Linked DNA regions of Homo sapiens: region 1 is linked to region 2. The links come from fine-mapping of genetic effects on gene expression. A gene starts in region 2. The other region holds a variant in brackets. All regions are shown on one strand. Distances are from middle to middle. Region 1 overlaps ATG10 (autophagy related 10). Region 2 holds the start of RPS23 (ribosomal protein S23).

The links. PIP is the estimated chance that this variant, and not a neighbour inherited with it, causes the effect.
Region 1: its variant is fine-mapped to the expression of RPS23 in monocytes (CEDAR, PIP 0.95). The same link has a PIP of 0.9 or more in B cells.

Annotation. Positions count from the first base shown.
Region 1 is chr5:82,016,011-82,018,928 of GRCh38, forward strand. The region is part of intron 2 of ATG10 (autophagy related 10); the gene reads left to right. Among named protein-coding and RNA genes, the nearest start is that of ATG10, 45 kb to the left of the region's middle. The variant C/CT (reference allele first, on the strand shown) is at 1,145.
Region 2 is chr5:82,276,666-82,279,583 of GRCh38, forward strand. RPS23 (ribosomal protein S23) reads right to left here and starts at 1,689. Exons shown (of 4, transcript NM_001025.5): 1 at 1,655-1,689; 2 at 1,028-1,187. The coding sequence starts at 1,658. It also overlaps the pseudogene ATP6AP1L. RefSeq lists an enhancer at 1,680-2,009.

The DNA.
Region 1 (2,918 bases), 260 kb before region 2:
GTGAAGATTTTCTCCCAGTCTGTGGGTTGTCTGTTTACTCTGCTGATTATTTCTTTTGCTGTGCATAAGCTTTTTAAATTGTCTCGTCTATTTATCTTTGTTTTTGATGCATTTTCTTTTGGGTTCTTGGTCATTAAATCTTTGTCTAAGGCATTGTCTAGAAGGGTTTTTCCAATGTTCTGGAATTTTTTATGGTTTCAGGTCTTGAATTTAAGTCTTTGATCCATCTTTAGTTGATTTTTGTATAAGGTGAGAGAGAGGCGAGGATCCACTTTGATTCTTTTACATGTGGCTTGCCGATTATCCCAGCACCATTTGTTGAATAGGGTGTCCTTTCCCCACTTTATTTTGTTTGCTTTGTTGGAGATCAGTTGACTCTAAGTATTTGGCTTTATTTCTGGGTTCTCTGTGCTGTTCTGTTGGTCTATAGGCTTATTTTTTACGAGTTCCATGCTGTTTTGGTGACTATGGCTTTATAGTATAGTTTGAAGTCAAGAAATGTAATGCCTCCAGATTTGTTCTTTCTGTTTAGTCTTGCTTTAGCTATGTAGGCTCTTTTTTGGTTCCATATGAATTTTAGGATTGTTATTTTCCAGTTCTGTAAAGAATGATGGTGGTATTTTGATGGGAATTGCACTGAATTTGTAGATTGCTTTTGGCAGTGTGGTCATTTTCTTTCTTTCTTTTTTTTTTTTTGAGATGGAGTCTTGCTCTGTTGCCCAGGCTGGAGTGCAGTGGCATGATCTCAGCTCACCGCAAGCTCTGCCTCCCAGGTTCACACCATTCTCCTGCCTCAGCCTCCCAAGTAGCTGGGACTGTAGGCGCCTGCCACCACGCCTGGCTAATTTTTTGTATTTTTTTAGTAGAGACAGGGTTTCACCGTGTTAGCCAGGATGGTCTCGAGCTCCTGACCTCGTGATCCGCGCACCTTAGCCTCCCACAGTGCCTGGATTACAGGCGTGAGCCACTGCGCCCAGCCCCAGCAGTTTGGTCATTTTTATAATATCAATTCAACCCCTCCAAGAGCGTGGGATGTGTTTCTACTTGTTTGTGTTGTCTATGATTTATCTCAGCAGTGTTTTATAGTTTTCCTTGTAGAGATCTTTCACCTCCTTGGTTAAGCATATTCCTAAGTATTTTATCT[C/CT]TTTTTTTTTTTTTGCGGCTATTGTAAAAGGGGTTGAGTTCTTGATTTGATTCTCAGCTTGGCTGCTGTTGGTGTATAGCAGGGCTGTTGATTTGCGTATGTTGATTTTGTATCCTGAAACTTTGCTGAATTCATTTACCAGTTCTAGGAGCTTTTTGGATGAGTCTTTAGGGTATACGATAATGTCCTTAGCAAACAGTGACAGTTTGATGTCCTCTTTACTGATTTGGATGCCCTTTATTTCTTTCTCTTGTCTGATTGCTCTGACTAGGACTTTCAGTACTATGTTAAATAGAAGTGATGAAAGTGGGCATCCTTGTCTTGTTCCAATTCTCAGGGGGAATGCTTTCAACTTTTCCTTATTCAGTATAATGTTGGCTGTGGGTTTGTCATAGATGGCTTTTTTACCTTAAGATATGTCCCTTCTATGCTGGTTTTGCTGAGGGTTTTAATCATAAAGGGATGCTGGATTCTGTCAAATGCTTAACAAAAACTATTTGTTTTAGAAGAATTTAAGTAGTAAAATTTCTTTTCTTATGGAATGATCCATTGGGTCCAATATTATTATTAATGTTACCAGTGATATCTAGGCTGCTAAACTCACAGGTAAATTATTTGATCTTCTAGCATCACTTGACAGGATTGATCATTCTTTCCTCCTTGATATACTTTCTTCAATTGGTGTCCTTACTCTCTTAGTTCACCTTCTATATTACTCTTTATTCCTTTTCAGTCTCCTTTGCTGTTTCTTTATTTTTTCCCCACAGTCTCATAATATTAGTGCCCATGAGCAGTCCTATGTCTTATTCTCATCTCTAGCTAGTCTCATGACCATGGAGGTCTCATCATTTAAATTCCATCCAAATGCTAATTACTCCTAAATGTATATCCTCTGCCCAGATGTCTCTCCCTTAAGGCCAACTTCTTGACACTTCTACTTTGATGGATTCACTTAGATCCCGAAGCTAACATGTCCAGAATTAAACTCCTAGTCTCCCCGCTCCCAAACTTGTTCACCTACTACCACCCAAACCAGCCCTCTTTGAATTGATGACAACTCCATCCTTCCAGTTGCTCAAGCTACTGGAACTATCTTTAACTCCTTTATTTTTTTTACACCCCACATCTAATCCATTAGGAAATCCTGCTTGTTCCCTTTTCATAATATCCAGAATCATACCATCTGTCATCATCTTCCCTGCTACCACCCTGGTATAAACTATCGTCAACTCTTACTAGGATTACCTTCCTAATGATCTGACTGTTTTCACTCTTGCCTTCCTATGACATAACTCTTAAAATACAAGTCAGATTGTGTCACTTCTCAACTCAGATTAAAAGCCAAAATATTTACAATACACCATAAACTGTGCAGTTTGCTTCCTTCTCCACTTTCTTACTCCCCTGATTTCACCTCCTATTTTTCTTTCTTTCATCACAACTGTCCAGGCACGCTGACCTTGCTGTTCTTTAAACACTCCAGACAAACACTGCCACCCTGGGGCCTCTGAACTGACTGGCCCCTCTGTCTAGAACACTCTTCTTCCAGATATAGCTAAGTCATCCAGGTCCTTTGTGTGGTTGCTCACATGCCACCTCCTTAATGAGGCCTCCCTGCCTGCCCTGTGCAACATTTCAAACCATCTGCTAGCCACTGGCTTGCCTATCTGACAGCCTCACTCTGGCACTCCTGCTTCCCTTTTCCTACTCTGCTTTTTTTCATACTGCTATTTTCGTCTTCTTACATACTATTTAATGTACTTATTTATTATGT
Region 2 (2,918 bases):
TTTCTGCCAGTCTTAATTTCATTAGCACAATGGGGGAAATTTCTAGACCTTTTACAGTTATAAAAGTAGACTGGAGTGGCAGCGTGGGCCTGTAGTCCCAACTACTTGCGAGGCTGACGTGGGAGGATCTATGCCTAGAACGTCAAGATGGCCAGCCTGTGTGACAAGGGACCCTATCTCAAAAAAAAAAAAAGAAAAAAGAAAAAAGGTATCTGAGGTAAGAATTAGAAAGTCTGGGCCGGACACAGTGGCTCACGCCTGTAATTCCAGCACTTTCGGAGGCCGAAGCAGGCATTATCACCTGAGGTCAGGAGTTTGAGACTAGCCTGGTCAACATGGTGAAACCCCATCACTACTGAAAATACAAAATATTAGCTGGTGTGGTAGTGGGCGCCTGTAATCCCAGCTACCTGGGAGGCTGAGGCAGGAGAAATGCTTGAACCTGGGAGGCTAAGGTTGCAGGGAGTCTTGCGCTACTGCACACCAGCCTGGGTGACAGAGCTAGACTGTCTCAAAAAAAAAAAAAAAAAAAAAAAAAGTCTGGGTTAAAATGGCTCTACCATCAAATATGATAGAACTATATGAAATTATTATTTTAAAAAGTCAAAACCAGTCAAATACTGGCAGTTTCATGTCTCAATCTTAGGTGTATGACCTCAATTAATTCTGATGCAAGTCACTTCTCTTCACCTTAGTTTTATCAAGTCGATAAAGTTCAATAGCTGACACGTGCCATTTACTTATAACAACTCCCACAGTAAAGGTGTTTGTGTCCTTTACTTCATCATTGCTAGTATCTTCTCCAATTCCTTCCAGGCCAACGTTAAATTAAAACCTTAACTACCTAATTCCCAAAAACTAATTTTACCAACTTTTAAATAGAACAAACGCTTTGCAATTTTACCCCACAATGCCCAAATGAATACTACTACACAAAAACCTGCAATTACTTTCAAAACAAGAATTCGTAAGTTCATGTCTCGAATTCCTATAATAAACTAAAACTTGACGGGAGCAATGGACTTACACTTTTTCCAGCACGATTCCTTTTGCATGAGAAGCACCTCCAAAAGGGTTGGCCTTTAGGGCTGTGCCCAAATGAGCTTTCTTATACTGTTTATCATGCCACTTCTGGTCTCGTCGGTGACTACGGAGCTTCCTAGCAGTACGAAGTCCACGACACTTGCCTAAAAATTAAATATTTTAGTTCTTCCGTAAAAACACGCCATCTACGTGTTTCCCATCTTCTAAGACACTCGCCTCACCTGGAATAAACCCTTAAGCCGATTGGCTCTCGTACTATTTATTGGCCTGTGGGCCAAACATTTGGCCTTCAAGTTGCCCTGAACCGACTAATAAACGTTCGAAGAGGGCTCCGGAGAATGTGTTCTCCCGAAGGACGAGGCCCCGCTCGAATGCCCGGGAGGAAGCGCTGGCCTCCCTGCGTCCCTCGGTACCCCGACCTCGGCGGCCTCCACGCCTCATGGGCCCCTTCCGCGCCGGACCACGTGCCTCCTGGAGCGGCGCTTCCCCGGCCCTCCCCCATGGAGCCTCTCCATGGCATCCCCCGCCCTACTCTATTCGCATCCGCCCGCCCGTCCCCAAGACCCCAAGTCCCGCTTGCAGCGCCCTTAAACCGGCCACAACAGCTCACCCATCCTGTCGGCGCCACGGGCCTGAGCGAAAGAGAGAAGCACCGCAGGAAGGAGCCACAAGCCACCGCGAGCAAGCCCCGCCCAGCCAAGGACCCCGCGCCGCTGTCTGCGCCGCGCCTGACCCGAGGCTGGGGTCTCTCCTTTGAAAACGACGCGTTTGCATCACTTTCCTGAGCCAGAATCTGCGTCTTATTTAATTTGCAAGAAATTCAGAGATATCTAATTTGCATGGTTTTTTTTCCCCCTTTTTCTTTTGAATGCTGGAGACCGGAGGAACATGGACTACCAATCCCAGAATGCGTTTTATGGGACCCGCTCACCGCGCAGGCGCTCTTGCCCAAGCCACTGAGAGCGGGACGCGGGGCTAGGTCAGAGTAGGAAGGAGTCGCTGAGCTGAATCTTTGTGGAGTGGAGTGGGGCGAGAGTCCTCCGAGTAGTCTGGAAAATTAGACTTCTGAGCCTTAATTCATACTTATAAGCAGCTAGTAAATTGTAAAATATAGTGAAGCAATGTAGTGTAGTAACTAAAACCCCAAGCTTTGGAGCCAGATTGGGCCTTTAACCCTAAAGTTGCCGTTTATTTTGACTGGCGAGTCATTTACTTATAGATTTATTTATTTTTATTTTTATTTTTTTCTGAGACAGGGTCTCACTCTGTCTTCTAGGCTGTTGTGCAGTGGTGCGATCTTGGCTCACTACAACCTCCGCCTCCCGGGTTCAAGCGATTGTCCCACCTCAGCCTCCTGAGTAGCTGGGATTACAGGCTTCCACCATCACGCCTGGCTGATGTTTGTATTTTCAGTAGAGAGGGGGTTTCACCATGTTGGCCAGGCTGGTGTCGATCTCCTGACCTCGAGTGATCCGCCCGCCTCGGCCTCCCAATGTGCTGGGATTACAGGCGTGAGCCACCGCGCCTGGCCATTTAATTAACTCTTTAATACTGTTTCTCCTGTAAGATGAACTAGCTGTGAGAGGTTTCTGGGATATTGGTTCACTCAGCAAGGATGTTTAAAAATGCCTTCTATGTGCCAGACGCTGTTGTAGGTACCGGGAATATGGCGGTTAAATTAAGAGGGTGAAGGTTTCTGCTCTGATACAGTTTATATTCTAAATGTGAGAGGACAGACCAGTTAGATAGATGTAAATTAAATAATTAAATAGATGATTTTTACATACTGTAGAGCTATAGAGAAAATATAGCTGGATGGGTGATAGTGACTTGGGGATGGGGGTGGCTACTCTGGATAGGGTAGTTTAAGGTGA